Homo sapiens: one gene and its partners. The protein of the gene in region 1 binds, or shares a complex with, the protein of each later gene. Each region holds a gene or a part of one and is shown on either strand. Other genes may lie near its edges.

Region 1 (9,569 bases):
TTCTCCTGAGAAGATGCAGAGATCCTGATAATATAAATGGGGAAGCTGAGGCTGCTCTTTGTCACTTCCTCCGACTGCTCCTGAGCACCTGAGTTTGCAAGCACGCGCCGGCTGGTGCTAGAGACATGGTGGTATCCCGTGACACTCAGCCTCAGGATGGGGGAGACTGATGTGAAATACAAATAACTTAAACACTTTCAGGCAAAGATAAGCACTGGGCCTAGTTCAGAGAAGTGGCAAATTGCTACTCTGGCCTGTCTCTGACCAACTCCCAGTTCTCTACAGAGCACGGGAAAGCCCCTCGGGGACGTCTTTCCTGCAGTGTGCAGGCTGCCCTTCTCCCCTGCTCTTCCCAGTTGATGGGATGGTTGTGTTTTCTCTATGAAAAAAGGAGTTGGCACCTTGGGCTTTCTGAAACACACAGGTGTTTTAGAAATCAGTGGAGGGTGAGAGAAAGGCATGGTTGTGGAGGCACTGGACTGTGAACAAGGTCTGCAGCGGGTCCCCCTGCTGTCTCTCTCCACTGCATGGAGCCTCCTATGAAGCCCAAGGTGGCTGGGGGCTGAGGCTCCCTTGGGCCTGCCATGGAACTGATTCTGAGTCAAGCAGACTTTCCACGGACCATGCTACATGAGCCGAGGTGAGGCACTAGTTAGTGCTCCTTTCCTGTTGCAGTGGAGATTTGGCTCCTCTGTACTAAAATATCTGCATGCTCTCCAAACAGGTGTGAGGGCAAATCACATGACCTTGGCAGCTGTAATTAAAGTTTGTGGGGGCTTTTCGGATGACTTATGAGGAGTGGCTGTGATTCGCACCTTTCACTCTTAGTAGCACTCGCCCTCCCCTGTTCTCTGTTGCCTGAAGCTGGAGAGGTCCTTGGAACCCCGAGGCCTGAGAAAGGGAAATGGGTTTGAGAGCCCCCATTAGTGTGGAACAAAGGGTTGAGTGAGCCTGGGCTTTGAGCTGTCGGGGTCCTAATTCAGCAGCTGTGTGACTGTGTGCCAGGCTGTTGATCTCTGAGCTTCTGTTTCTACCTGCTTAAAATGACGGTTACTGCACAGGGCTGTGTGAGGGTTACAGTGCGTCTCTGGGCTGCTCCCAGCCATGGCAGGCCCCTGGGAATCAAGGTCATCAGCTGCTTGTCCAAGGCAGCAGTTAGTGGTTGTGAATGGTGCGTGTGAGATCTGCATCCTGGCGTCAGGCCTCCTTCCTGCCTTACCCAGGACAGCCCAGTTGCAGCTGGGTTGGTCCCACAGTCCCACACACACACAGCCCGAGTGTGGTGCCTCACGTGGGCTGCCCCGTGCCTACCCACAGCCACAGACCCCGCACCTGGAGGAGGACTTGAAGGAGGTGCTGCGTTCTGAGGCTGGCATCGAACTCATCATCGAGGACGACATCAGGCCCGAGAAGCAGAAGAGGAAGCCTGGGGTGAGTAGGGTAGGGGTGGGAGAGCCTGGGCAGGGGGAATTGGAGCCGTGGCATGGGGGAGGCGTCTGGGGACAGGTTGTAGAAAGTGAGGCGCTGGGGAGAATGGGGGCGTAGCATATCCCCTTTGCCCCCTTTCGCACGGTGGTTGTTGAGGAAACTGACAAGATAAGGACAGTGTCTCTGGGACCCTCCTCTGCTCTGCTTTGAAGGATTCACTTACTTATCCAGCATTGTGTTCGGACCCTGCTCAAGTTGGGCTGGGCTGGATGTGGTGGATGGAGCAGCAATTACGACCCAGACTGGATCTCCCCTTAGTGTTCAGGGGGCAGAGACAGATGCTAGACAGACACACCATGACTGAATTCACAGGGTACCAAGGGCCGCAGAAAGGGAGGTTCCAAAGGAATCTTTTGGGTGGAGGCGAGGCGGTCGGGATGAGCCAGCCAGGCCAGGCAGTGCCTGGCTGAGTGTCAAGCTGCATGAGCTGGGGGTGGGGGAGTGGGTTCAGGTGAGGTGGAGTCTGCAGGGGCTCCTGGGCAGGGGGGCAGGGAAGGGACTGTCCCAAGCCTCCGTTCTATGCCAGCCTCCCTCCCACTGCGTCGTTAGCTTTCATGACAGTGCGCGATCCCTTCGAGTCTCCTAGTGCTCCTTTTTCCCAGACTGCTCTCCTCAAGGGAGAGCTGGGAACGGTGGGATGTACAGGGTGTTAGGTAAGGAGGGGAGGTGGGCGGTCAGCCTGGGCGGGACTTGCCCGAGCTGGCACCCCATGTGCACGTGGAGAGAACTTGGCCTCTGGCCTCCAGGGTCCTCCCTGGCCTCTCCTTGGTGGGGATGGTTGTGAGCCATGGCAGCCCCTGCTGAGTGCACTGTTGGGTAGAGTGGGGATGTGACTCTCAGAGCCGCTCCCTGGTATCGGAGCAGGCCCTGGACCTGCTTCTGTGAGGTGCACGGTTAGGAATGGGGCGTTCCTTGATTGTATTAGGCATTGTAGAGGGGCTTGTCCTGAGGGGTTTGTGTTCCCATATTACTGGCCTGTGGGTGCTATTTTAGGTGTTACTGGGGTGATTCTCTGCTGGGCCTGTTTGAGGGGCTGTGTCTGGTCCATTCGGGGTGAGAACAGGTCACTTCGTGGTGGAGGTTCATGCTGTGTTCCTGCTCACTGTCGCAGCACCTGGCAGGATAGGGTCTACCTTGGGTACAGAGTCTAATGGGGCCATGGGGCCTAACTTTCCCAGCCACCCCATTCTTCTGACAGCAGATTCCCACTAGCTGGGCCTTGCTCCAAGTCTGCACTGCAGCAGGGCCTGGTTTTGTGACCATCCATGGCCATGACCATCCAGGTGCTGACCATGGGGAATCCAGACACTCACCCTAACCCCCTTCTATCTGCCAACCCCTAGCTGCGGCGGAGCCCCATCAAGAAAGTCCGGAAGTCTCTGGCTCTTGACATTGTGGATGAGGATGTGAAGCTGATGATGTCCACACTGCCCAAGTCTCTATCCTTGGTAAGGCTTCTGCTCCTTGGAACTGTTGAGTTTTGGAGAGGACCCTCAAGGTGGAGTTAGTGTAGTGACTCTCCAACTGGGCTTCTGGAACCCTGGGCTCTGCAGGGAGGGGCTATCAGGGAGGGTGGGTCCGGGCACCCACTCATGGCTTCAGTCAGCAGCTCTGCTTGTCTCTCACAGAAGGTTTTGTTTGGCAGAGTTGCGCGGCTAGGACATGTTTTAAAAACATGCATCTGGGTCTCCTGCGCTCTCCCAGAGAGGGTCAGTGATGTGTCTTTTTTTTTCTTTTTTTTTTTTTGAATTGGAATTTCGCTCTTGTTGCCCAGGCTGGAGTGCAATGGTGCCATCTCGGCTCACTGCAACCTCCGTCTCCCGAGTTCAAGTTGTTCTCCTGCCTCAGCCTCCCAAGTAGCTGGGATTACAGGCATGCATCACCACGCCCGGCTAATTTTGTATCTTTAGTAGAGACGGGGTTTCTCCATGTTGGTCAGGCTGGTCTCGAACTCCCCACCTCAGGTGATCTGCCTGCCTCGGCCTCCCAGAGTGCTGGGATTACAGGCGTGAGTCACCGTGCCCAGCCTAGTAATGTGTCTTAAGGTATAGCCAGGCACTTGGGCACATTAGTCCTGGGATGGGTGCTATACAGCCCCCAGGCCAGTGGACTTGCTGTGCCGGGTGCTACAGTGAGGTCGACCTCAGAAAGGGGGTTGTTGCCTGTGCAGAGCCTGGGTCCCCAGAAGCCAGGGTGTGCTGCTGATCCCTCTCTGCTCACAATGGGGTGAGTTGGCTTGCCCTGGCTCAGAGTGGGGAGGCGGTGAGAGGCATGGCGGCGTCATGAACAAAGGTTAAGGGTTGCCTGATCTTCCAAGTAGACTGCTGCCCTCACGGTCCTTGCAGAGAAACCTTGTCCTGGCTAGGGGTCTCTGACAGGCTGGGGACCTGCAGCCAGGTTACTGCAAAGAAAAAAACATCACCGCAGGGAGTGAAGAGCACAGATTGAGTCAGGTGGGCCTGGGTTTGAGTTATGACACCATCACTGCTCTCTGGGATCTTTCAGGTTCCCTGAGCCCCAGTTAAAAGCCTATAAAAGGGGTGCCAAGCCTAAGTCAGGAGGGCACAGTGCCAAGCAGAGCAGAGAGACTGGAAGGGCGTGGGAGGGGCTTTGTGCAACTCCGCTGTGCTTGGGGTTGAAGCTGCGTCTTTATGATGCTTGTGGATGTTTCTGGTCCCAGGAAAACTAGGAACAGCCTTGGCTCCTCCTGAGGCTTTATGTGACAAAGCCAACGTTATTGAGTATGTTATTACTGGATAATGCTCAGTGATACTCCACATTTATTGATTATGTTATTATGGCCTGGGGGCTGCACGGCACCCATCCCAGGGCTGATGTGCCCCCACGTACTTGACTGTGCCTCCAGACACACCACTGAATCAGGCTCTGAAACGCACACACGTTTCTTTACTTGATTACTTGATTTTTTTTTTTTAAGTAAGAAAGTTCTTTAGAACAAGATTAAGTTCTTTGCTTAATTTTTTTTTGAGACGGAGTCTGGCTCTGTCTCCCAGGCTGGAATGCAGTGGTGCAATCTCGGCTCACTGCAAGCTCCACCTCCTCCCAGGTTCGCACCATTCTTCTGCCTCAGCCTCCCAAGTAGCTGGGACAACAGGCGCCCACCACCACACCCAGCTAATTTTTGTGTTTTTAGTAGAGACGGGGTTTCACCCTGTTGACCAGGATGGTCTCGATCTCTTGACCTCGTGATCCGCCTGCCTCGGCCTCCCAAAGTGCTGGGATTACAGGCGTGAGCCACCGCTCCTGGCCCTTTGCTTAATCTTTTAAGTATAAAGTAAGCTTAAGCTCATGTAAACTCCCTATCTGAAAGCAGAAACTGAGGCTTGGAAAAGTGTGTATCCTCTTTCAGGTCTCAGCAGCCAGGTGGTGGTGCTGGGGTGGGATTGCGGGTTTTTTTCTTCCCTCTCACAGCTTCTCGCAAAATGGTGACTCCTTGACTTGGTTTTGGTTTCAGCCGACAACTGCCCCTTCAAACTCTTCCAGCCTCACCCTGTCAGGTATCAAAGAAGACAACAGCTTGCTCAACCAGGGCTTCTTGCAGGCCAAGCCCGAGAAGGCAGCAGTGGCCCAGAAGCCCCGAAGCCACTTCACGACACCTGCCCCTGTGAGTGCTGTGGCCATCTCTGGGGGTCCTGCAGTGCCCGCCTTCTTAGCTCAGGGCTGAGTGCTGGCCATCCCTGGGGGTCCTGCAGTGCCCGCCTTCTTAGCTCAGGGCCTTTGCATAGGCTGTTCCTCTGCCTGGGTGCTTTTCCTGCTACTTCCCGTGGCTGCATTTGCTTAACTTACTCTTCTGATTTCAGTCTCAATGCTGCTTCCTTAGGGGTAAGCCTTCTCTGACCCTACATTCTGTAGAGATACCCCCATTCTGCCATTCTCTCTTTTGTGGCCTGGGTTTCACTTGTAACTAAGTCATTATCCCTGTATTTGGTTTGCTTAGTACATGTCTGTCCTCAAGCAGGGGCTGGCTTCAGGCTGCTGACCCGTCTCACTGCTCCTTCTCACCCGCCTCCTGGCTGTGGCTTCTCCTCGAGGCTGGTGCTGCACGGGGCGGGCAGTGCATGGCCATGTCTCCTTGTCCAGCGTCCTACTTACAGTTGAGGAAGCCCACAGCCAGGAAGTGACTTGTCCAGGGTCACAGGGAATGTGGAGAGAGAATAAGAAGGCTCTGGCTTCTAGGGGAGGGAGGCTTATAACTCTACCCTTCCCTGGCCAGGATCACCAGGGTCTGTTGGGAACACATAGTCCCTGCCTGGATGGTAACCCTCTTGCCTCCTCCCAGATGTCCAGTGCCTGGAAGACGGTGGCCTGCGGGGGGACCAGGGACCAGCTTTTCATGCAGGAGAAAGCCCGGCAGCTCCTGGGCCGCCTGAAGCCCAGCCACACATCTCGGACCCTCATCTTGTCCTGAGGTGTTGAGGGTGTCACGAGCCCATTCTCATGTTTACAGGGGTTGTGGGGGCAGAGGGGGTCTGTGAATCTGAGAGTCATTCAGGTGACCTCCTGCAGGGAGCCTTCTGCCACCAGCCCCTCCCCAGACTCTCAGGTGGAGGCAACAGGGCCATGTGCTGCCCTGTTGCCGAGCCCAGCTGTGGGCGGCTCCTGGTGCTAACAACAAAGTTCCACTTCCAGGTCTGCCTGGTTCCCTCCCCAAGGCCACAGGGAGCTCCGTCAGCTTCTCCCAAGCCCACGTCAGGCCTGGCCTCATCTCAGACCCTGCTTAGGATGGGGGATGTGGCCAGGGGTGCTCCTGTGCTCACCCTCTCTTGGTGCATTTTTTTGGAAGAATAAAATTGCCTCTCTCTTTGTGCTGGTCTGGACTCTGCCTCTCTACTGGGCCCTGCTCATGGTTCCCTGGTGACCTAGGGGCCTCTTCTGGGATATAGGGACCTGAATGCTCATCCTCAGAGGCCAGCCTTATCGGCACAGCCCAGGCCTGAGCCCTTGACCCTGTTTCCACAGAGGGGCACAATGAGATGAGAGCAATTTCTCTCGTCTCTGCACCCAGTGGGCATCTCTGCAAAGCTCTGAGTATTAATAGCCATGGGGTTGGGCGGGGGTGGGCAGAGACTGGGGGCGGAGGAGGACGATGGGTTGGTGCAGTAGGGCCTTGCCTGGCCCTTGCCTTGGGTGGCTCACCTGCCCATTAACAAGCCCCTGCCTCAAGCTGAGCGTGGCCCCCAGGTCAGACCAGTAAGCAAGGAAGAGGGGTGAAGGCAGCTGGGCAGAACCCTCTAGCCCCATTGGCCAAGGCTGAGCAGGAGGCCAGGATGGGCCAGAGCCTCTGCCCTTGTGGCCCTAAATCCCTAGGGTTGTGGCTACAGAGCACAGTGCTTGGCAGGTGGTTGGGAAGAGTCACTGGGGATTGAAGAGGGGAAGATGCCAAGTCTGAGAATGTCTAAATGAGGAATTGATGTTTTCAGCAGCAGGCTTCATGGGACAGGCACATGAACATCCCTGTGGGCAGAGGTTGAGCAGACTTGGGGCAGGTCCTCACCTGGGGCAAGAGATGCGGCCAACTCTAGAGGGATGGGGACTGAGTTAATTAGGGTGCCAGAGTTCAGATGTGTCTGGCCTCAGACACACCCCTTTCTCCCTGCTGAGCTCCCGCCTACAGTCCCCCTACTCCTGTCCATTCACATGCAGGCATGCCGTGCTTGGTCCTGGCAGTGTCCCAGTTCTTGATCTAAAGCCGAGGAGGGGCGGGGGCTCTGTGCTTCCCACCCTGCACCCCGCACCCCGCAGCCCATGTGGCTGGGCTGCATGCACCTGCAGGTTCCATGGATGAACCACACCTAACTCACGCCCTGAGCTTTTGTGATTTGTCAGCATGGAGCCTATCCCCTCCCCAACTTCTTCCCCAAGGTCTGTCACTGGCCGCTCCCTACAGTCCTTGGTCACCCAAGGTGGATGACCTGTGCCCCACGGTGAGGATGGAGGCTGCATTACCTTGTCTCCTATAGCTCACACCAAGACTCGGTGGAACAACTTTGTCAAACTCAAATGCAGTGCGCTGCAGGCTAATGATGAAAATTCCTGGGCCCTCTGAGTCAGGTACCTGGGGTGGAGCCTGCAAAAAGGGATTTTTAACAAACCACCAGTGGGTTATTCACATGCAGGGCGTTGACTGGCTACACTCTGAGCTGACGCCTGTGAGGCTCCAGGGGCTTGTACCCCATGCCCTCTCTTGCCTGAGGTCTTGCTCATTCCCAGGGACTGCCCTCAGGCCCTTTCCTGTCCTGGAGGGAGGAGGCTGTAAAGAACAGAGTGGCTGCAGGTAACAGCAAGCTTAACATACCATCCTCACTGAGCTCTGTGTGCTGTGGGCTTGTTCTTTGGTTCATGCATTAAATAAATACTAGGCCGGGTATGGTGGCTCACGCCTGTAATCCCAACACTTTGGGAGGCCGAGGAGGCCAAATTGCTTGAGTCTAGGAGTTTGAGATAAGCTTGGGCAGCATCATGAAACCCTCTGTCTACTAAAAAAAAAATAGAAAAAATTAGCTGGGCATGGTGGCATGTGCCTTTAGTCCCAGCTCCTCGAGAGGCTGAGGTGGGAGAATCACCTGAGCCCAGGAGGTCGAGGCTGCAGTGAGCTGAGATCATTCCACTGCACTCCAGCCTGGGCAACCAGAGGGAGACACTGTCTCAAAAACAAAAACAAAACCACATTTATTGAGGGACCCTCCAACCCTACCCCCACATGTCTGGCATAGTTGTAGTGCTGAAGATATAGCAGTAAAGGATAGAAACCAGGCCAGGTGTGGTGGCTCATGCCTGTAATTTAGTACTTTAGGAGGCTGAGGTGGGAGGATCACTTGAGCCCAGGAGTTTGAGACCAGCCTGGGCAACATGGTGAAACCCCATCTCTACAAAAAATTTTAAAAACTTAGCATGATAGCATGATGGCTCATGCCTGTAGTCCCAGCTACTCAGGAAGCTGAGGTGGGAGGATCTCTTGAGCTGTGGTTGTGCCTCTCTACTCCGGCCTGAGTGACAAAGCAAGACCCTATCTCAAAAGACAAAAACCAAAAAACTACCTTATTCTCATGGAGCTTAAATTCTTTTTTTTTTTTTTTTTTTTGAGATGGAGTCTTGCTCTGTTGCCCAGGCTGGAGTGCAGTGGTGCGATCTTGGCTCATTGCATGCTTCGCTTCCTGGGTTCACACCATTCTCCTGCCTCAGCCTCCCGAGTAGCTGGGACTACAGGCACCCACCACCATGCCCGGCTAATTTTTTTTTTGCATTTTTAGTAGAGACAAGGTTTCACCGTGTTAGCCAGGATGGTCTCGATCTCCTGACCTTGTGATCCGCGTGCCTCAGCCTTCGAAAGTGCTGGAATTACAGGCGTGAGCCACTGCGCCCGGCCATGGAGCTTAAATTCTAAAAAGCAGACAGATATAAACCAACCAATTGATATAAAATGTGCCAGAGGGAACTTTGAAGTAAAGCAGGGGGTACCGTGAGGCCAGTCATCTGCTCAGAGAAAGTGGGGAGGAGTCAGATTTGACAGCTCCTGGCCATCATGGGGACAGGGAGAGCCCACATGGGAAGGCAGATTGGTTGCCACTCAGGAGGTGCTGGGGGCCCAGCTGCTGTTTGATCAGGAGTTTGGGGAACTTGGTCATGAGGATTGATCCAGGCCTGATGTTTCCCAGGCTAGTGTGGCAAGCAAGAAAGAGTTAGCCAGATAGCGCTGAGGGGCAGAGGGCCTGAGTTCAGGATGGTAGTACAGGAGTGGGGGTGCTGCGGTCAGCCTGGGAGAGGGACAGGCAGGAGGGAAAGATGAGGCTTAGTTAAGATGGCAGAGGGAGGCTGGGCGTGGTGGCTCATGTCTGTAATCCCAGCACTTTGGGAGGCCGAGGCAGGCAGATCATCTGAGGTCGGGAGTTTGAGACCAGCCTGACCAACATGGAAAAACTCCGTCTCTACTAAAAATACAAAATTAGCCGGGCATGGTGGCGCATGCCTGTAATCCCAGCTACTTTGGAGGCTGAGGCAGAAGAATCGCTTGAACCCAGGAGGCGGAGGTTGCGGTGAGCCAAGATCGCACCATTGCACTT
Region 2 (11,700 bases), on another chromosome or scaffold:
ATTCCCCCATATACCAGGGTCCTCTTGTGGCACTAGGGACAGACACCAAGTTAGGCAAAGTGTAGGAACAGCTCTTGAGATGTGTATTCTAGTAAAAGGGAAGAGAAGCTATGCAGGAGTATTTAAGCATGTAATTCTTTTTCTCAGTTCCACAGTTTAATCATAATTTTTCCTCATTATTAAAGGAATTAAGCAATGAATTCGTTTTTTAGCAACAGAAAATAATGAAATGTAACCTCAATAATGTTTGGTAATGATATTGATAGTGCTAGTTATTGATAGTGATTTTTGGACACACTTAGGTCTACAATAAATTGGTGTTCATTATTTTTTGTGCTTTTCAAAGAGTAAATCTTCCCCTTTTGGGGAGATAGCACTCAGCCATTTTAAGATAATAGTAATCTTTTCTTTTCTTTTCTTTTTTCCTTTCCTTTCCTTTCCTTTCCTTTCCTTCCCCTTTCCTTCCCCTTCCCCTTCCCCTTCCCCTCCCCCTTCCCCTTCCCCTCCCTTCTCTTCCCTTCTTTTCTTTCCTTTTTTTCTTTTCTTTTTCTTCTTGAGAAAGGGCTCTGTTGCCCAGGTTGGAATGTAGTGGCACAGTCATAGCTCACTGCATCCTCCAACTCCTAGGCTCAAGAGAACTTCCCACTTCGGCCTCCCAAAGTGCTGAGATTACAGGTGTGAGCTACCATGCCTGGCCAATAATAGTAATCTTACTGAAACTTTAGTTAAGGTCCAGAACCTGAAATAAACAATACTGATCATAAGATTGCTAAAATGTAAAAAATAAATTTATCACTACTGGGTGACAAGATTATAACAAGCTAATGAAGGGGAATGAATGGCTCTGACTTGAGGAACTTTTAAAACGTTATCTGTTTCTTGAGCAGATGAAAAACTTGAACTGCATACAGTCTTTCTAGCTGTGAAATTCTATCGTACATTTACCTTATTAAAAAAAGGGAGATCACTTGTTTGTTTGTTGGTTGGTTTTTCTCAGACAGAGTTTTGCTCTTGTTGCCCAGGCTGGAGTGCAGTGGTGCAATCTCGGCTTACTGCAGCCTCCGTCTAAAAGGGAGATCACTTTCTTTGGCTTTTGAGTAATGGTTATAACTAAAAGTAGCGGCAAGATCCAGTAAAAAAATTTAGGCCTTGATGTATCTTATAATTAGTGCTGAGCCTCAGTTACCTCATCTGGAAATGTCTGGTTGGGGAAGGCTGGGGCTGGATTCCAAACTGTGCCCAGAGGCTGCTGAGAAGTTCTGTGGAGGTGCCTTAGAAACCATGTGGCTGTGCTTGAGGGCAGAGATGGCAGAGCTTAGGACCTGGCCTCACTGCAGCCAGCCTCAACAGCACCACTTCCATCTGTTTTACATGAGTTTTTTTTTGTTTTGTTTTGAGACAGGGTCTCATTCTGTCACCCAGGCTGGAATGGAGTGGTATGATCTCTGCTCACAGCAAATTCTGCCTCCTGGATTCAAACAATCCTCCCACCTCAGCCTCCTGGGTAGCTGGGACTATAGGCACATACCACCATGCCCAGCTAGTTTTTGTATTTTTTGTAGAGATAGGGTTTTGCCATGTTGCCCAGGTTGGCCTTAAACTCCTGGACTCAAGCAATCAACCTGCTTTGGCCTCCCAAAGTGTTGGGATTACAGGCGTGAGCCACTGTGCCCAGCCTCCCTCGAGATTTTATTTGAAGAAACAATTTTGTGCCTTTAAAATGTTTGCATATCCCTGGGCTACACATCCTAAAGTTTGGGGGCATATTTGACCCCAAACTGTCAGGAGTCTATGTTAGATAAATGGTATCACCCTTGCTGTGTCATTTGCTGAAGAGTTCCAGGTGCCTACTGGTTCTTTCCCAGATTGTGAGGTCCTGTTTCTATGGATGATGGAAAAATGTATTTATTGAGTTGGATCATTCTTTCTTAAATGTTTAATTTTTTAAATTAATTCATTAGTGCAGGCGGGATGTCTCTTTAAACTCTAATTTTAAACTATATTTAAAGGTATTATCTTAATTCTTTTAAATTCCAACTCACTTATGCACAATTGACCATATTGTTTTTATTGATCATTACAGCAAATCGCTTTCAAAAACCTGGTACAGAGAAATCGACAAAATGAGCAGCAAAACCAGGGCCCGCCGGCTCTGAACTCTACCATTCAGCTGCCATTCATAATCATCAATACAAGCAGAAAAACAGTCATAGATTGCAGCATCTCCAGTGACAAGTGAGTGGAGAACTAGGGATGGGTGCAGGGCTGGCCTTCTGTTAACATTTTCATATCATTTGCAAACTCAAGAAGGATGCACTTTATTAGTTGCACCCCTCAAAGGCTGGCTTCCTTGGGGCACATGAAACACCTCCTGAACCATGGGTGCAATCTTCCACTAGTGTGCGCTCCAACCCTCACCCTCTGTGGTCCCCTGTCTTGTGCCAGGCACTGTGCTGTCTGTATTATATGTGTGTGGCAGTGTCTGGGCCCAACCTATGACGTGCTGCATGTATGTGGTAACTCTGAGCAAGTAACTGTGATAAGTTAGCCCAGCACTGTGGGTCTGGGACAAGGTAGATTCATTGGTGATTCACCGTCATAGTTTATTACGGAAATATTTTAGGTCAACATGTGGCATTAAACCAATTATTTCTTTGTTTTGCTATATCATAGTTATGCATGCTTCTGTTTATTAATGAATGTATGAATAGACATGAAAATGCCTGGCACATTCTTTGCTTCCTTTAAATTGTGTTTTTACATTTTAACTAAGATCAATGATAATATTCATTATGGCAAATAAGAAGTAGCACTTTTCAAAATATAGAATTAATTTGTGATGTATTTTACCATTCATGAAAAAGTTTCTCTCAGTGGTCTTCAGGCTGTGACCAGTACCATAAAAGAGTTAAGAGTATATATAGGGTGCAGAGTGAGACGGATCCATGTACCGCTTATGGCTCCCCCACTTCGCTGCTGCAAAGCTCTGTTTTCTCAAGAACAAATAGGAATGATACTGGGTCCCCTATGACTTCCCAGCCTTGTGAGGATTAAATGAGTTAATGTCTATAATGACTTGAGGTAAGTGTTTTTTAAATGTTAGCTGCTGTTACAAAAGGTCAGCCTATAGTTTATTGTTCAAATAGGGATTTATTAATGCAAAAGAAGACTCTATAATAATTGCGTCAGTACCACAGGCATACCCCAGAACTGTCCCAGGGATACCAGAACTTCCTGTCTCCTAGGGCCCTGACATTGCCCTTGGGCTTCACTGCTACTTGTTTTCCCACTCTTCTTCCTGGCGCTCTTGCGCCCCCTGCCGGTCTCTGTTGTGTCCAGAGATTCCGGGCCACTCCACTAAGAAGGCACACACACAAAAGAAGAGTTAGCCAGGCGTGGTGGTTCACACCTGTAATCCCAGCACTCTGGGAGGCCGGAGGCTAGTGGATCACCTGAGATCAGGAGTTCGAGACCAGCCTGGCCAACATAGTGAAACCCTGTCTCTACTAAAAATACAAAAATTAGCCAGGCTTGGTGGCGCACGCCTGTAGTCCCAGCTACTAGGGAGGCCAAGGCAGGAGAAACGCTTGAACCTGGGAGGCAGGGGTTGCAGTGAACCGAGATTGTGCCACTACACTCCAGCCTGGACGACAGAGCAAGACTCTGTCTCGAAAAAAGAAAAAAGAAAAAAACAGCAGGAATTTCAAAACTATTTGATAATTGAGACTATAGACACAAAAAGAAATAGTAGAGGTTATGAAGTAAACCAGAACCAATAAATTTTTTTTTAAGAGTGGATTCTTGGCCGGGCGTGTTGGCTCATGCCTGTAATCCCAGCACTTTGGGAGGCCAAGGCAGGCAGATCACCTGTGGTCAAGAGTTTGAGACCAGCCTGACCAACATGGTGAAACCCTGTGGCTACTAAAAATACAAAAATTAGCGTGATGATGCACACCTGTAATCCCAGCTACTCGGGAGGCTGAGGCAGGAGAATCACTTGAACCCAGGAGGCAGAGGTTGCAGTGACCCAAGATTGTACCATTGCACTCCAGCCTGGGCAGCAAGAGCAAAACTCCGTCCCCCCCAAAAAAAGAGTGGATTCTCACTGTTCTCACTGTTGCCCAGGTTGGAGTGCAGTGGCTATTTACAGGCACGATTATAGCTCACTGCAGCCTCAAACTCCTGGGCTCAAGCGGTCCCCCTGCCTCAGCCTTCCTAGTAGCCAGGACTGCAGGTGCACACTTCCTTGGCCAACTAAAGCTGATCCATTTTTTAATCTTCTAAGTTTCTTAACCTCTCTGAGATCATGTTCCTTTCTCCACAAAAATAAGAATTATAGTATTTACCTTGCCAGTTTCAAAAAGTTATGGGTAAATTAATATACAACCCAGCCCAGTGGTCAGTAAGTGGTAGATATCTGAATTATTTTCCACACACTTGCAAATTCTTTATAAATATATGTCAAAGAGGACCATTAACATAGTCTCAGAAAACTGAGAATTCAGGCCGGGCACGGTGGCTCACACCTGTAATCCCAGCACTTTGGGAGGCCAAGGTGGGTGGATCATAAGGTCAGGAGTTCGAGACCAACCTGACCAACATGGTAAAACCCCCATTTCTACTAAAAATACAAAAATTAGCCAGGCATGGTGGCACGCGCCTGTACTCCCAGCTACTCAGGAGGCTGAGGCAGGAGAATCACTTGAACCCAGGAGGTGAAGTTTGCATTGAGCCGAGATCGTGCCACTGCACTCCAGCCTGGGCGACAGAGCAAGACTCTGTCTCAAAAAAAAAAAAAAAAAAAAAAAACAACAAAAAACTGAGAATTCTGGAAAATGGTTAGCATCTTTTCAGATAAAAAACACAAAACTTAGCATTCTAGTTACTCTCTCAAATTAGTCTCTTGTTTTGTATGGAGAATTATAAAACTATCTTAGGTTAGTCTCTTAAGTCTAAAAAGAATGATGGGAAAATCTGGGAATCATTGGCCTAGGGTATTGTGGACACTGTTCCCCCAGGCTGGAATCTGGTGAGGCTTCCATCTCTTGGGTGGTCCCTGACTCATGCCCTTTCCTTGGCCTTCCTTTGAGTGGAGGGAAGGAGGCTCTGAGTAGCTTGTACAAGCTTGTTATCCGACGTAGGTCCAAAAACCCTTTCAGTTACTTTGGTGATGCAGTCTTTCCCCATAATTAGCCAAGAGGCTTTCCACAATGAGGATTACATTTACAAAACGATCTGCTTTTAACAGATGCCTGAAATCATCCCTGTGGCAGGCACCCACTTCAGATTTTTTTTTTTAAGTTGTTATTGTACTTTAATCAAATTCATATACTTTAGATTACTTAAATTGGTATTTTGCTTCAAATTATAATTTTTGCTTCTAAGATAATCTGTTATTCAAATTATCTTAGATAGGGTATAAAGTTTTACCCTCACATGATTTTAATAGAATTTCATGACCAGGTGAAACCTACCATTGTCCCCAAACCCTGTCCCTGCAGGGCTGAGGCCCATGATGAAGGTGCTCCAGGCCTAGCCTAGGAGTCGGAAGGACTGTGTCTTCCTTCTTTTGCCTCTTGATTAACGTGTGTTGGGCTGCTGGGAAGCTGGGAATCCAATTTGGGTACTTTCCAAACATATTTGGAAACGTGCTTGTATTACATGTGACATTTTTTCTTAAAACATTTTACTCCTTAGCCTCTCAGGACAGGATTTGGGGTTGTTTTCACTTGTTGAAAGTCTTCTATTTATTGCTTATCTGAAGTAGGCTGTAGCTAACATTTGACTCATGAAAATGAAGTAAGCATTCAAAATGTTTTTTTCCTCAAAGCTAACAGGCCAACTCGGAATAGGGATATCGTAATATTAAAGTAGAAAGGCTTTTCTTTTGTGGCAAAGCTGTAGGCAACTTTGAGAAGTACTGGATTTAGAATAAAATTTCTATCCTCTGTTTGTAACAGAGTTAGGGCTAAAGTTTGTGGGTTTCTATCATCTGTCAGAGGAATGTTGTTTTAATTGGGAAAGTGTTTTATTTGAGATGTCATTCCCCTGACAGAGCAGAATGACTCATGGCTCTCTAAATGGTAGCAATTTCTAGCACTATAGCTGGATTTAGGCCCCCATTCTGTTACTTAAACTATAGAATACAAAACTATTCAGACCTCTCCAGCACCACCAAAAACCCTTTACTTTGTTTCCTGATGCAGGTTTGAGTATCTTTTCAATTTTGACAACACCTTTGAGATCCATGATGACATAGAAGTACTAAAGCGGATGGGAATGTCGTTTGGCCTGGAGTCAGGCAAATGCTCTCTGGAGGATCTGAAACTTGCGAAATCCCTGGTGCCAAAGGCTTTAGAAGGTTATATCACAGGTATGTTAACTGATGCTTTCATGTGTTGTCCCTGATTAAATGTTGAATCCAAACTTGTTAAAACCTTTCTTATAGAAAATTGCAAAATTTTAGAACATCTGTGCTTGTGTCGACAAACTGAAACCTTTAACACTTTAGGACCATTTTTTCAAAAATTAGATTAAATAGTTTGTTTCATAACATTATGAACTTACATCTATACACCACACATTATATACTATTACATCTAAATTGGCTCACTCAGCACTGAATTTGGCTCTTCAGAGAGATCTTGTAATTCCCAGTACCTAGCTTAGAGCCTAGTTAGAGTAAGCTAGTAAAAGCTCAATGAGGGAGTTTTAAAAAATCTTCTCTTAGTGCCCTGTGGATACTTCAAGGGAAACTTTGGGCAATTTACAAAAGAAAGTAGGTACATCCTGGCCGGGCGCTGCAGCTCACACCTGTAATCCCAGCACTTTGGGAAGCCAAGACGGGTGGATCACCTGAGGTCGGGAGTTCGAGACCAGCCTGGCCAACATGGTGAAACCCTGTCTCTACTAAAAAAATACAAAAAATTAGCCGGGCGTGATGGCACATATCTGTAATCCCAGCTACTCAGGAGGCTGAGGCAGGAGAATCACTTGAACCTGGGAGGTGGAGGTTGCAATGAGCTGAGATCGCCATTGCACTCTAGCCTGGGCAAGAAGAGTGAAACTCTGTCTCAAAAAAAAAAAAAAAAAAAAAAAAGTAGGTACATCCTACTTCCCTCTAATGGAAAATTTAGTATATCTATTATCTGCCCATACATAAAAACATTTGATTAATTGAATTCAGAGAGGAGGAGTGGACTGAAAGTTTAAATGTCAGGGGAAAAAAGGGCAGAACGGGGTAAACCTGGATTCACATTTGTGTACGCTGCTCCTCTTTACAGTAAAACTTCTCAAGTTGACCATATTTACTGTTCCTTCTTCCTCTTTCCCCAGTCTTAAATTGTTCTTATTAAATACTGAGTAGATACAAAGGTTGTTTACGTCTGTAGACTCTGAAGGGTCACAGTACAGTAGACCCCCATGAATCCAGCACCCAGCTGAGGAAAGCACATTACTGTTCCAGTCCACTGCATGCCCCTGCCCCAGGCTCTGTGCCCTTTCCCACCCCTCAAATATAACCATTCTCTTACATTTCATTGTCATTCACTTGCATTTCTTTAGAGATAAACCAAAATGGTAAACTGGAAATAATGTATTATTTAGTTTTGCCTACTTCTGGCCTCTATATAAGTGAAGTCATAGTAATATACTCTTTGGTGATTTGATTTTTTTTCACTCGATATTATGTTCTTTAGAGTCATCCATGTGATTTAATATAGATATAATTCATACATTCTTACTCCTGTGTAAAATTCCATTATATGAATACATCACAGCTTATCTGTTTATTTTACTGAAAATAAACTGTTTGTTTCCGATTGCTTGATGTTAAAATACAGTGCTGCTTTGAACATTCCTATACATGTATCCCAGTGACCACATGCAAACGTACAGATTGAACTTGTTAGGTCAGAGTTGGGTACATCTTCAGCTTTACTAGATGATACCAAAAATTTTCAATTTGATTTTACCAAATTACACGTTCCCCAGCAGAGTAGAAGTGTTCTATTTTCCTAATCAGGTGGGTCTGAAATGATACCATTGTAGCTTTTCTAAATTGAGATTGAATTCACATGCCATAAAATACACCATTTAAAAATGTCAGTTCAGTGATGTTTTGGTATATTCACAAGGTTGCTAATCATCACCACTATCTGATTCCAGAATATTTTAATTTAAAAACCCAAAAAGAAACCCAAACCCATTAACAGTCTCTATTCCCCCATTCTCCCTCAGCCCCTGGCAACCACTAATCTACTTTGTGTCACTATGGATTTGCCTATTCTAGAAAGACGCTTTATGTGAATGGAACCCTACAGCATGGGGCATTTTGTGGATAGCTTCTTTCACTTAGTGTAGTGTTTCAAGGTTCGTTCATGTTGTAGCACCATCAGTATTTCATTCCTCTTTATTGCCAAATACTATTCCATTGTATGGATGGACCACATTTTGTTTATCCATTCATCAGTTGGTAGATATTTGGACTGTTTCCACTTTTTGGCTATCTCGAATGATGCTGCTGTTAACATTCTTATAAAAGTTTATGTGTAAACATATGTTTTTATCTCTAAAAACATATACCTACGAGTGAAATTGCTGGGTCATATGGTAACTCTGTGTTTAACATTTTAAGGAAATACCAAACTGTTTTCCAAAGCTCCTGTACCATTTACAGTCCAACCAGTGGATAAGTGTTCCAATTTCTCCACATCCTTACTTACTTATTTAGAGACGGAGTCTCACTCTGTCGCCCAAGCTGGAGTGCGGTGACGTAATTTGGCTCACTGCAACCTCCACCTCCCAGGTTCAAGTGATTCTCCTGCCTCAGCCTCCTGAGTAGCTGGGATTACAGGCACCTTGCCGCTATGCCCGGTTAGTTTTGGTATTTTTAGTAGAGACAGGATTTCACCATGTTGGCCAGGCTGATCTGGAACTCTTGGCCTGAATTCACCTGCCTCAGCCTCCCAAAGTGTTGGGATTATACATGTGAGCCACCGTGCCTGCCCTCCATATCCTTTTCTACACTTGTCACTATACATCTTTTGAATTATAGCCATCCTCACAGAAGTGAAGTGATATCTCGCTGTGATTTTTGTGGGGGGGGTGGGGCAGGGTGGTGGTGGAGGGGAGAGAGTCTTGCTCTCCAGGCTGGAGTGCAGTGGCGCAATCTCTGCTCACTGCAGCCTCGAACTCATGGGCTCAAACGATCCACCCACCTCAGCCTCCTGAGTAGCTGGGACCACAGATGTGTGCCACCATGCCCGGTTAAATCTTTTTTTTTTTTTTGATATGTTTGGTAGAGATGGGGTTTTGCCATGTTGTCCAGGCTAGTCTCAAAGTTCTGAGCTCAAGCGATCCACCTGCCTTGGCTCCCACTGTGATTTTGATTTGCATTTCCATAATGACTTCTGATGTTGAGCATCTTTTCATGTGTTTATTGACTATTTGTATGTCTTCCTCAGAAATATGTCTATTCACATTGACTTTTTTTTTGAGATGGAGTCTCTCTCTGTTACCCAGGCTGGAGTGCAATGGTGCAGTCTCAGCTCACTGCAAGCTCCACCTCCCGGGTTCAGGCGATTCTCCTGTCTCAGCCTCCCAAGTAGCTGGAATTACAGGCGCCCACCACCACGCCCAGCTAATTTTTGTATTTTTAGTAGAGACAGGGTTTCACCACGTTGGCCAGGCTGGTCTCGAACTCCTGACCTCAGGTGATCCACCCGCTTCGGCCTCCCACAGTCCATCCTTTGCTCATTTTTAAGTAGAGTTACTTGTCTTTTTATAGAGTTGTAAAGTTATACTGAGTATACTTGAAAACAGAAGCACTATGTTTTACATGTCCTATAATTAAGATTTTTTTCACTAATTTAGAAATCTTCCTGATTTTCCTAATTCCTGAAAATATTACATATTTTGTAGATACAATTTGACTATATAGGTTGGGTGCGGTGGCTTACGCCTGTGATCCCAGCACTTTGGGAGGCTGAGGCAGGCATATCACTTGAGGTTAGGAGTTCAAGACCAGGCTGACCAACATGGCAAAACCCCATCTCTACTAAAAATACAAAAATTAGCCAGGCATGGTGACACATGCCTGTAATTCCAGTTATTTGAGAGGCTGGGGCAGGAAAATCACTTGAACCTGGGAGGCAGAGGTTGCAGTGAACGGAGATTGCACCACTGCACTCCAGCCTGGGCAACAGAGCGAGACTCTGTCTTTTAAAAAAAGAAATGAATATATAAGCAGTGTTTTTGCCTTTGCTTTCTTTTGTTTATTTTATTTGTAAGTATAACCATCTAGAATTTCACATCGCTTTTTAAAGGCATTTTAATACTAGGTCTAAGATACATTAAATCCAATGTAAGCAAAAAGGTAGCTTTAATTTTGTTTTATTCTATGATTTGGTCCTTTGCTCACAACAGAAGAGTTTGTTGGCTGAGATTTGGTTTCTGTTTTAGTTCTTCGGTTGGCACCATTCATCCCCTGCAAGGGCCCCCCGCCTCTCCTTGCCCCTCAGCCCACCTGTTCCGTCTCCCCACCCAGCTTTCCTCTCTCCACGCTCTCCAGCCTGGGTCCTGCTGTGTCATTGGAAGGCCAGCAGAATCTGAATAAAGGGCTTACTCAATAAATCACCAGAACTTTATTTTAGCTTACTCCCAGTGAAAAGGCTCAGGGCGATTAGGCAGGCTCTGTGGTTTTGATCTCTTCGTGACCTCATTTGCAGACTGGGATACAGACTTTCTGGTTAGTTCAAAGGAAGAAACATGTGCCTCTCGTGTGTAAAGGGGCAGAATGGCCTGGGTGGGAGTGTGAGAACCATTGTGTGGATCCTGTGATAATAGGAAAGAAATGTAGGCTTTTCCAATTCATTGTAAAAAGAGAATGTAATGTGTTATGCTCACAAACAAGTAAATAGCTGTGTTCTGACAGAAGGTTTCTATAGTTCTATATACTAATTAATATTCAGCACAAGATTCTGGCTTTAATTTTATTTTCTTGTACAGACTTGTCGTTATTTAATGTATTTAAAGTCTGCTATTCTTCTTAGACTTGAAGTCTCTTTTTTTTCCCAGCTGTCTCAAAGAAAAAGGTTCATAAGACGGTTCTAAAATTAGCATAGTCATTTAGTTTACTTTTTTCCTACGTGGGAATGGCCTCTTGTTTGGATACCAGAGTTTCCAATCTAAATCATATAGTTTCATTTTTTTGTATAGTAATTGCAAAAAGATTTTGATTCAATTAAATCATAGCTCATTTTGGCAGATTACATTTTCTGAGTATGTGTTTGGGCTTATAGAATTTCTTTTTAGGAATTACTTTTAATGTATCTACCACTTATTTTGTAAAGTGGCAGCTGACAGAGACTATACTCATTCATTCAGTAACTTTTTTGTTTTTTTGTTTTTTTTTGTTTTTTTTGAGACAGTCACTCAGGCTGGAGTGCAGTGGCACGATCTCAGCTCACTGCAACCTCCGCCTCCTGGGTTCAAGTGATTCTCCTGCCTCAGTCTCTCTAGTAGCTGGGATTACAGGCATGTATCACCATGCCTGGCTAATTTTTGTATTTTTAATAGAGATGGGGCTTTGCTATATTTGCCAGGCTGGTCTCGAACTCCTGAGCTCAATCTGCCCGCCTTGGCCTCCCAAAGTGCTGGGATTACAGGCATGAGCCACCGCGCCCCGCCACATTTAGATCT
Region 3 (11,700 bases), on another chromosome or scaffold:
AAATAAAGCACTTTACCATAGTCACTGATACTGTTTGTAGAAAACATTCCAAAATTCTGCATCGTTCTAGCACAACAAAACAAAATGGCGAAACCAAATGTTCTGTACACAGAGTTGCATTCATAAAGACCTGAGCTATTGAGTATTAAATTGGAGCAACCCATCGTGAGGCTTGCTATATTTGCAGCCAACTCAAGTCTTAAAGCCTGTGACAGATTAAGTCAAGCAACATAATCTAAACCACTAACTCAACAACCTGTGAGTAAGCGGTCACTAACAGAAGTATACTAAATAATGAAGTCTGAAATTAAAGCTCACTATGGCAAGAGAGGGTAATTGAGAATTCAGGCTGCCATGCAGCTGTATAGGAATCTTTAACATACAAACAAGCACTTTAAACTAGAAAATATTAATTTAAGGTTTTGGTCACTTGAAACAAGCTTGTTAACATGCTAGCATAACTTTTTTTATACAAGTTTTTAATATGTAATTTTGATTATAATTATAATTTTATAATTTTGTTTTCATATTGTTAACATCTTCCCAATTTTAAAAATTAATTATAAATATTTTACTGTAGCAGTATCTTTAATCTCCATGTGGAGATTAGATTCAATACTCTAAAGACCAGAAAGAATCCCAGGTTATAAGTCTTATTAAGGTGCCTGACCACTTCCACTTTATTCAGTCAAAAACCATTTGCTGTTTATATTCCAGTCAAGAGTTCTTTAGAACTAATATCTTAAGGCCAGGCATGGTAGCTCATGCCTGTAATCCCAGCACTTTGGGAGACTGAGATGGGCAGATCACCTGAGGTCAGGCGTTCAAGACCAGGCTGGCCAACATAGTGAGACCTCATCTCTACCAAAAATACATAAATTTAGCTGGGCGTCGTGGTGTATGCCTGTAATCCCAGCTACTTAGGAGGCTGAGGCAGGAGAATTGCTTAAACCCAGGAGGCGGAGATTGCAGTGAGCTGAGATCATGACACTGCACACCAGCCTGGGCAACAGAGTGAGACTCTATCTCAAAAAGAAAACAAAACAAAAAACCAAAACTAATATCTTAAATATTTTGTACAAAAAAGCCTTATTTTTATAAGCACTGGATCTCATTTTCAGTTTAGGCATTTTATTTTTGAGACGGAGTTTGCTCTTGTTGCCCAAGCTGGAGTGCAATTGCGTGATCTTGGCTCACTGCAACCTCTGCCTCCCAGGCTCAAGCGATTCTCCTGCGTCAGCCTCCCAAGTAGCTGGGATTACAGGCGCACACCACCATGCCCAGCTAATTTTTTGTATTTTTAGTAGAGATGGGGTTTCACCATGTTGGCCAGGCTAGTCTCAAACTCCTGACCTCAGGTGATCTGCCCACCTTGGCCTCCCAAAGTGCTGGGATTATAGGCGTGAGCCACTGTGCCTGGCCTACTTAGGCATTTTAAATAATATGCCATTTGCAAGGCTCATTCCATTTAATAATTCCTCAGATTAACCTCTAACAAACTTTCTAATACCAGTCCAGTCCAGTCCAAATCACAAACTATGTTTTATCAGGTCTTGACAAACACTGGAGATATTATAGACATGCCTTATTCCTCACAGCCACCTGGTATAGGCTATTTTAAGGATAAGAAAACTGAGGCTCAAAGAGATTCACAAACTACTAAGTAGCACAGATAGTATAAACTCAAGTCTACCTGACTTTAGAGGTCAGGCTTTTCTACTCCAGAGCTCAGCAGATGAAAGAGATAACAATACGGAGCTGCACTATTACAGTGTGATGGGTGGTCCAATAGGATGGGAAAAGTGCTCCAAGAAATGGAAAAGGCAAGAGAAGGTAGGAAAATGCAAAAACATAATTACACGTTCAGCGAGACATATGAACATCTGCTTTTCTTTGGGGTTCCTCAAATTACATAATTACCTCATCTTAGTAGACAGAAATTAAGCACAGTGGACTAAATCATTACTGTGCATTTTCGAACTGCACAATAATCTGACAGTGGTTTCTGTTACCTTTAAATTCCTTTACAAGTAACTAAAGATGGAAAGAAAACACAAAAATCAGGTTTGCAACAACCAAAAATATAAACTCAACTTTGCCCCCTGAAAAGAAACTTTACCAAAAGTATTTGGGAAGTACTATAAAAAGATTAAAATACTGACTTACTTTCCGCCTCCACTATTTAAAGCTGGTGTTGGCCTAGTAAGCAAGTCTGAAATTTGAGAGGATAACTTCGTCTTGGCTGCTGTTTGTTGCTGTACCCTTACTTCAGCTGCATCTGCCAAATGCATCAATGTCTTCCTTTCCGGGCTTTCTTCAAAATTCTTACAGCCAATACATTTGCATATTGAGGAACACATTATTTTTGCCTAAAAGATTTACATAAGAAAAGTTTCCAAATCAAAACCAAAATACATTACTATAAGTAGATGCCACAATCAAATCAACAGCTAATAGCATTACCTGGTCAACTGATAATAAGATTAGATGGAAGTATCTCTGGCTGACAAACAGTAACTACACATGTGGCTAGCTAGGTTAGGTATTCTTAAGTCTGACAGTGGCTGTACAACGTTTGTGGCTGTGTCCTTCCATGTCAGTTTTCCCCCACTATGAATATAGATTTTCTTCAGATATGAGTTACACATGTTTTTCATAAACATGAATGATATCCTAAAATATCAAAAATAAAGGTCATCCAGAATCCAGCCACCTCAATCAAATCATCATTAACATATAGATGACCTCCCATTTATGCATATGTATACAATTTCACATTAAAGGGATTTCACAGATGCCATTTTTATTATTCTATTATGCTATTTTTAATCTGAAGAGGGAGTTCGGGAGGGACTTCAGATTCCCCAAACCCTTCAATAACCCATATGAAACTAGTGTGTATTTTACATTTCATATAAATATATATTTTCATGTAAAAATATGTCAAATGTAAGTATATATAAAATCCTAGACCTTATGTATATACAAATATAGAACTTTCATTTTTTAGTTTTTCAAAATCATATTATCTGCTTTTCTGCATCTTGCTTTTCTTACAACTCATGGAATCCCTCCAAAGTCATCTGGCATAGCTTGAATTCATTCTATTTAACAGCTAGGTGTAAATCCCTGGTATGATGTGTCAATTTTATTGGGCATTCATTTCCCTATTGATGGGTGTTTATTTTTGTTTCCAGTTCTTGGGTACCACAAATGATGCATAAAAAGACTTTTTTGTTATACATTATGCCTTTTTATTTCTCTGAGTTAGATTTCTAGAATTGGGCTCACTGGTTAACAGGTCTGTGTATTTTAATTTTTTTTTTTTTTTTTTTTGAGATGGAGTCTCGCTCTGTCTCCCAGGCTGGAGTGCAGTGGCGCGATCTCAGCTCACTGCAAGCTCCGCCTCCCAGGTTCACGCCATTCTCTTGCCTCAGCCTCCCGAGTAGCTGGGACTACAGGCACCCGCCACCACGCCCGGCTAATTTTTTTTGTATTTTTAGTAGAGACGGGGTTTCACCGTGTTAGCCAGGATGGTCCCGACCTCCTGACCTCGTGATTCACCCGCCTCGGCCTCCCAAAGTGCTGGGATTACAGATGTGAGCCACCGCGCCTGGCCTGTGTATTTGAATTTTAAGAGATGTAGCCAGATTGCTTTTTCAAAAGGCTGTAATACCTCACATCTCATCAGCAATGTGTAAAGGAAGGCTTTCCCACATTCCCTCCAACAATGAATATTATAATTCCTTTTAACATTTTATGCCAGGCGCGGTGGCTCACGCCTGAAATCCCAGCACTTTGGGAGGCCGAGGTGGGAGGATCACCTGAGGTCCGGAGTTCAAGACCAGCCTGACCAACATGGAGAAACCCCATCTCTCTTTAAAAAAAAAAAAAAAAAATTAGCCAGGCATGGTGGCACATGCCTGTAATCTCAGCTACTCGAGAGGCTGAGGCAGGAGAATCGCTTGAACCCGGGAGGCGGAGGTTGCAGTGAGCCGCGATCACGCGATTGCACTCCAGCCTAGGCAATAAGAATGAAACACCATCTCAAAAAAATATATATATATATAATCTGATGGTGGGGATGATAAAGTGAGATTTCACTGTTCTTTAATGTATATTTCCCTGATTTCTAACGAATTTGAGTATGTTTTTGTTAGCTGTGTTTTCTTCAATGAACCCATGTCTATATAAATAAATAAAACTGTCCTTTCTCTCTATAGCACCTAGCAAGATAAACGGGCTGCATTATAAACACATTTACTCTGCTCCTTTCTTATAAGACACCAATAAATTCCACTTACCAAAGGAAAAAATGGATGTAAGTTTGTGTTAACTGGGTTACTGTGAGCCTGAATGGGAATCTAACTAAAGCAATACTTAATAAGCATCTAGTGATGACGAGAGAAAATTCCTGACCTCAGAGTGGGGAAAACATACCAATAATGGTAATTTAGATTTTATATATATATATATATTTGTTTTTTAAAAATTATCTTTATATTTTAAGAACCATAGGAAAGACATTAATAGTGTCTAACCGGAGCTCAGATGGAGAAATTACAATGACATTTAGCTTGGCGAATTTAACTTCCCCTATACCAAAAAAAAAAAAGATGTGGAGGGGAGGAAAATGGTCACAAGAAAAGACACAGCCATGAAATAAGGTGGGTAGCCATTCATCCAATCAACAAGCCTATAGGCATTGAAAGGACACATGAATGTGTTGTCCAGATGCAAACCAACAGGATTAAAAAGCCAATTCAGCTGAAGAACAAGGTGTCAAAAGAACAGTTCAACACAAAATGTCAGATAAGCCCACAGCTAATTTACAGCCAACTAGCCACTGCTATTCATAGTTTAGTATATTCTAAGTTTCTCCATTTTTTGGTACATAACTTTTGGAATGATAAATTTGTTACTAGACAGTGTATCTGTCCCGACAAAATTTCATTAGAATAGGTAGGGTAGGGCTGTCTCTTCTAACACTTTTAAACCAGTCCAGTACCTTTTCTACTTCTATTAATTCACAGGTTGTTAACCAGTTCAATTAAATGGTTAGTTCCTATATGTCTGAATTTCATATGCCCAGCATGTATTGATTTTTCAATGCCATATACATGAAAGGGTCGCTTTACCCTTCTGATCCAACTTTACATAAATTTCCATGTTCTGAAAAGAAGTGTTAATTTTTACATATTCGTGACAATTTTTGTATGATATGGCTTCTAAACGCAAGCCGGCTATTTCATCAGGTATTCAAAAGAAGAAAGACTAAAAAAGATTCCAACACTGGATGAAAACTGGCTTGTTGGATTTTGAGATGTTAAGACAGTTTAAAAAATCAACTTGCGACGGTGGCTCATGCCTGTAATCCCAACATTTTGGGAGGCTGATGGGTGGGCGGATCACTTGAGTTTGAGAGCAACCGGGCCAACGTGGTGAAACCCTGTCTCTACTAAAAACAAAAAATACAAAAATTACCTGGGCATGGTGGCAGGTGCCTGTAATCCCACCTACTTGGGAAGCTGAGGCAGGAGAATCGCTTGAACCCAGGAGACGGATATTACAGTGAGCCAAGATCGCACCACTGCACTCCAGCCTGGGCGACAGGGCGAGACTCCGTCTCAAAAACAAAATAACAACAACAACAACAACAAAAAACTTGTCTCTTTATGCAATTTTCATTCATATCATCTGCAGAACTCACAAGATGTTACTCTCCTATTCCCTATTCTACTTTACTTCCTGAGAGGAGTATTTGACTTTGTAAATAAGTAGATTAGGAAAGAATTCATTACACAGAGAATGCAATACACAAAATCTTTCATATGACACATGCTGTATGGGAGAGGGCACTGAACTGGAGGACATGCTCCTGTGGCAGGGCAAACCTTCAGCAAGTGCAAAGCTAGGCTTTCTGCCAATAAATAAATAAACTAATTAATTAATTAATTCTCTGAGAATAAGAAAGAATGAAAATATATGAGAGTATGAGAAGAGCCAAGAAGAGGAATAACTCAACCACCCAAAAGACTGTCAGTAAAGAGTTTCAGGCATACCAAGAAACCAATTATGGTAATCTAGGGTTAATCTCAATCACTAGATTGTTACACATAAGCTTCTAAAATAAAACTATATAGTACTGTGTCTAAAGCAAGAAGGGGAAGATTTATATGGCATTTGTCAGAGCAGAGTTTCAACTACATCTTCCAGAGAAGACGCCTGACCCATAAGTAAAAATAACCAGCTCAGTGGAACAACAAAACAGTGAAAATGGAGACAATTGCCTACCGTGACCAGTAACCTCATCCAGCAGAATGCCAGATCCCCCTTTCCTATTTTTATGCTCACAAAGCAAACTTAACATACTTTGGTTTTCCGCAGAGCAGTGTGCTCTTTGAGTGGGCATAACCAGCATTTTGGTCAAGATAATCCTTTAATTTCCAGACTGTACCTTGGGATGCAGGCTATTTTGTATCCATATATATATATATATTTATATATTTATAATATATATTTATATATTTGAGACAGAGTCTTGCTCTGTTGCCCAAGCTGGAGTGCAGTGCCATGATCTCGGCTCACTGCAATCTCCACCTCCTGGGTTCAAGCGATTCTCGTGCCTCAGCCTCCCGAGTAGCTGGGATTACAGGCACCTGCCACCATGCCCGGCTAATTTTTGTATTTTAGTACAGACGGGGTTTCACCATGTTGACCAGGCAGGTCTCGAACTCCTGACCTCAAGTGATCTGCCCGCCTCTGCCTCCCAAAGTGCTGGGATTACAGGTGTGAGCCACCGCACCCGGCCATATATTTCTAAGAAGCCTGTGAAGAACAGTAAGTAGAACTGCACCTCAGGTGAGAATCACTGCTGGAGAGTTTCCAATCCACTTTGATATTATTTTTATTGAAAATCAATATATTGGTGTTCTGATCTGCATACTTTCTGAGCATAATGACCAAGAAGTTATGGTAAATCACCCAGTAAGACCCCAAGCTGTAATAATAAACCCAAGGTATTCCTCCGAAGCCCTGCTACAGAGGCTCGAAGGCCTTCCTAAAACAAGGGCCTTTGCACCAACTGTGCATATTTTCAAATTGCAATAGCAAGGTGATTTCCCAATTTTCAAGTAAATTTTTGTAGTAGGTCCTTTCTAAAACTGTTTTTAAAAGATATTATTTTCCGCACCCAGCATCTCACCTCATAGCATTCACAGTAGTTTTTAAGACATCCTGATCGTTTGCAATTACACCCTTTGCTATGACGTCGATCAGATTCTCCCTCCTTTCCTTTCCCTATCTTAGGCTTAAAGGCTTCTGGATTTCTGTCAAGGCATGCCTAGCAAAACAGATCAAATATCAGTTAGAGTTAAATCACAGTAGATGAAATTTAAACACTGCAAAAGGAATTGATAACGTTTCTTTGCAAGACAATTGAGTTTTATAAAACTGATGAAACTGGATATTTCTGTCAGTTAAATGAAATAAAAAATAATCACCTTTATTGCTTTTTGCCTTTCATTTTCATGTTCCAAATTGTTGTAACAATTAGTACAATTGCAGTTGTTGCAAAATTCACCATTTGCAAAGCAATCACAATACCTGAAAGGTAAAAGTCAGTATAAGGTAAAAAGTCATTATTAAGGAAAACTAATTATCTGATTATGCATACATTGTATATATATTGTACACATACTACATATGTGGTAAAGCATCTCAGAAATCTACTCAGCTACCCAGTTAAAGAGTTAACAACACATATTGTCAACCACATACTAAGGCTCAAAGTTTAAATCACCAAGTACTAGAAATGTGGCCTAAAAACTTAGTCCAACCAATAACAGCTGTCACACAAGAGCTGTCACACATATAAATTATATAAATTATATGTCACACATATAAATTTTATGTGCCCCCAAAGTAAGGCATTTCAAAATTCTGAAAAAGGAAAAACACTAGCTATATTCTAATAGTTGAACTGGCTCATCTGAGTTATAGTAATAGTACTTTGGATTCTATGCCCCAATAAGACCAATGCTTTTCATTTAACTATTTCATGTCAAGTCTTTTTAATGCTAATAAGCAAATTAACCATTCAGTGACTTTTAAAACTACCTAGAGTATCATCACTTAGGAGACCAAATACAAAAGTCATAAATAAGATCAAACATTATTATTAAGGGCAGAAGCTATGTCTGTCTCATGCTGCTATGTCCCTAACCCCTACTCCAGTGATTCATGTATGGTAAGGACTCTAAATATTTCTTTCTAGATGAATGAAATAATATTTTTACACTGCCATATATGTTCAAACATTCATTTGTATGTTTATTTAAATTACTTAGACTTATGAGCTTTGGTCTGCTAAAAATTTTTAGTTAACTCCATTTACTTTTAAGTGCATTTCTAATTACATTAAATAAGCAAACAGTTGCAAAAACACTTACAATTTCAAACACAGTGATTTTGTACAATTACAGGGCTTTCGGGGCCGACTGGCCGACTCTGATGGGATTATGCTGTACAGATAGAAAAAAAGATATACATTTAATCAATTAATAGTAACTAAAATTAATTTAGTTGCTACAACTAATTTAAAATTTAAAAAATTAGACCTAAAACTAATTTAAAATTAGAGAAGTCTCCAATCTATAAATCCCTCCAGAAATAAAGCTTTAACCAATGTTAAATGTGTCCATCTAAAATAAAAAGTTTGCTACGTTGTTCTATTTACACTAGGTTCAAAGGCAAGTTGTAACATGAAAGAGGTAGAGACAAGTATGGAATAATTTTTTTAAAAGAAGTTATCAATAGCTGCTAAAGAACACTCCACAAACACTGTCCCTTCTAAGAAAACAAAAGTTGAGATTGCCTCAAAACTCTTGGGATTCAATTATAAAAAGCAGTGAGGAAAAGGAGTGTGTGGAGGAGGAAATGGAAGTGGGATGTGGACTGATTCCGGGTAATTAAGCACGGCTTCTAAGCTGATATTGCAAAAGCCAGTAATTAATAGATAAACAAATAAACATCAACAAAAAATGAGGACCTCACATAATTTTAAAAATAGTTGGGCAGGTGCAGTGGCTTAAGCCTGGAATCCCAGCACTCTGGGAGACTGAGCCAGGAGGATCACTTGAGCCCAGGAGGTGGAGATTAGCCTGGGCAATATAGTGAGACCGCATCTCTACAAAAAAATTTAAAAATTAGGAGAGCATGGTGGCATGTGCATAGAGTTCCAGCTACTCAGGAGGCTGAGGCAGGAGGATTGCTTGAGCCTGGGAGGTTGCAGTGAGCTGAGATCACAGCACTGCACTCCAGCCTGGGCAACAGAGCAAGACCTTGTCTTGAAAAATAAAGATAAAAAATAGTTAGCATCATCATTTTGGAAACATACTCAGAATGAAAGAGAATAATAAAACTAGTGTAGTGAAATTGGTGAATCTGAATAGAGTATTTGGGAATTGACTATTTCTGTAATTTTTCTGTTTGAAATATTTCAACAAGTATTTTAGAGGCATGCTCACATGGCTTTAAGGGGAAAAAAATAAAAGAGGATGTAGTTTGGAATATATATATTTACTGTTGCATTTAAGCTGATCTAACAACTTATGTACCTATTTTCAAAATACTCACCCATTGAATGGAAGCCGTGCCTGGGTCTGGATACCAGATGTTCCAGTAAAGGTAGAGTTGCTTGCTATTGATACATATGAAGACTGCTGTAGCTACATGTAAAGAAAATTAATTTTAGATCATATTTCCAAAAATGGACAATACTGTCAGGTATGATGATCAGTAAGAAATACAAATTCATCCATTAAGATAAGAAAAACACAATGGAGAATATCACACAAACACATACTTCACAGAGCTCTTTTAAAGACTCAAACCAATACTATAGGTGAAAATAATGTGAACATTTTACAGTACTACATAGTACAAATATAAAGAAAGTATTTCACAGAAGAGTTAAGTATGTCGGAATGATAGGAAATGCTAGATGAATGCTCTCAAAGTACTGTAATAACTTGTTTGGGCTAGAAAAATGCAATGTGCCTACTTACAAATAAAATAGGTACTATACTGATCATTTATCACACTACAAATTACAGAGAATGAGAAGTTACATGCACAATAGTTGAGTTTCTATTTTACACCAACTTCTAAACATTAGAAATGCTTATGACAAAAATACTGAACATTATTCTTTTTATCAATAGCCACATAACATGTTCCAAAGTGTATTTCATTAAAAAGTACACGTGTGGGTTTGTTTCCCCGTCTTTCATTCTAAAGATGACCAGTAAGAGTAGATAGATCGCTGAAGATATGTCACCTGGAAATGCATCTCACAGTTTATTTTCCAATAAATAAACTTGGGCTTATTTTCCAAGTCAGTGGCATCAAATTTATGTGTGAGGAAGAGCTTTATAACAGCCACAGTCTTTTCTAAATTCATTTGGACTCTGCTGATTTTAACTTCAGTCTATTTTCTATCATATCGCCACAGGCTTGCGCTCCTGCCAAGCTGCTCTCAGCTCCAAATTGTCTGACTTGTATATCTGACCTGTGTTATATATTTCTAAATGCTAAAAGTACATAGAAATAAACTTAAAGGTTTGGGTTAACATTTTAAGATTTTGGAAAGTGCCACTTCAATACTGAGTTAGATGTGTTTGAGTAGCTTCTGTGATAGCACTAGACATCTTGGACCCCATTATCACTTTTGCAATACAATGACTTCATTTTTTCCACATACCTGAGTAACATACTGAGCTGGAAGCACTGCATAACCCACATTCCCTGTTCCCGGAGCTGGTGCCAGGACAGTGCCTGGTGGCAGGTTAGTGAGGTTGGGCTGGATCTGTGGCAGTGGTGTGGCAGGCATGATAAGCCGTTGCTGTGGCTGGCTAGTAGTTACTATTTGTGAAGTTGGATTGATTGGTTTTGGAACAACCTAAAAAGAAGGGACATATATCAATGACCACAAAATAAATTTTACAGCTGTTCAATTCAGTATAAATCTCTTGCACCTAAATCTTAACTTTCTATTTAAAAAGTAAATCGTCTATTTGGGAAAGACTGAGAAAGAAGTTATGTGATACTTACTTGTTTGACAGCCTGAGCTGAGACAATTGGAACTGACATCCGCACTGGGGTTGTATTAACAACCACTGGCTTTGCTTTTTAAAAAACAAAAGAAGGATGAACAAGTTATTTACAGAAAATAGTATTTAAAACACTTAAGAATACTTAGCTCTCCCAAGTTATTCTCATAAAAGAGCTTAAAGAATTCCATTTGATTCCTAATTTGAGCAATCTTTAATCAGGATAGTTACCTTTCAAAATTGCTTACCCCATCTACCAGAGAACTTATATCTAAGGTGGCTACAGTCTATCCACTTTGTGAGGGAATATTTGTAGGTTCAAGACATTCAAATGAAAATACTTCAATCTGTATTCAGATGATTTATACATTCAGTACTAAATCCAGTCAAATGAAATGTATAAATAAAAGAACTGTCATTCATAAGCTTGAGTAACAACAGCACTCTATACTACTATTTCTCATTGCTCTTTCTATTCAAACCAGAGAATATATCATTCTTGGGTTTTTGTTTTTTTTTGAGACGGAGACTCACTCTGTCTGTCACCCAGGCTGGAGTGTAGTGGTGCAATCTCAGCTCACTGCAACCT

Evidence for each region.
Region 2: MYBL2 (region 1) and TFDP2 share a complex: the UniProt entries of both Homo sapiens proteins name them as parts of the DREAM complex.
Region 3: MYBL2 (region 1) and LIN54 share a complex: the UniProt entries of both Homo sapiens proteins name them as parts of the DREAM complex.

Annotation. Positions count from the first base shown.
Region 1 is NC_000020.11:43,710,171-43,719,739, forward strand, and holds the end of MYBL2 (myb-related protein B), read left to right. Parts: intron 1-1,317; coding exon 1,318-1,431; intron 1,432-2,831; coding exon 2,832-2,936; intron 2,937-4,963; coding exon 4,964-5,113; intron 5,114-5,788; coding exon 5,789-5,917; 3' UTR 5,918-6,312; downstream 6,313-9,569. UniProt on the Homo sapiens protein: Transcription factor involved in the regulation of cell survival, proliferation, and differentiation. Transactivates the expression of the CLU gene.
Region 2 is NC_000003.12:141,954,347-141,966,046, reverse strand, and holds part of TFDP2 (transcription factor Dp-2), read left to right. Parts: intron 1-2,083; coding exon 2,084-2,235; intron 2,236-6,206; coding exon 6,207-6,373; intron 6,374-11,700. UniProt on the Homo sapiens protein: Can stimulate E2F-dependent transcription.
Region 3 is NC_000004.12:82,928,777-82,940,476, forward strand, and holds part of LIN54 (protein lin-54 homolog), read right to left. Parts: intron 11,187-11,700; coding exon 11,113-11,186; intron 10,961-11,112; coding exon 10,763-10,960; intron 9,729-10,762; coding exon 9,637-9,728; intron 8,523-9,636; coding exon 8,451-8,522; intron 7,606-8,450; coding exon 7,503-7,605; intron 7,343-7,502; coding exon 7,205-7,342; intron 2,370-7,204; coding exon 2,167-2,369; intron 1-2,166. UniProt on the Homo sapiens protein: Component of the DREAM complex, a multiprotein complex that can both act as a transcription activator or repressor depending on the context. In G0 phase, the complex binds to more than 800 promoters and is required for repression of E2F target genes.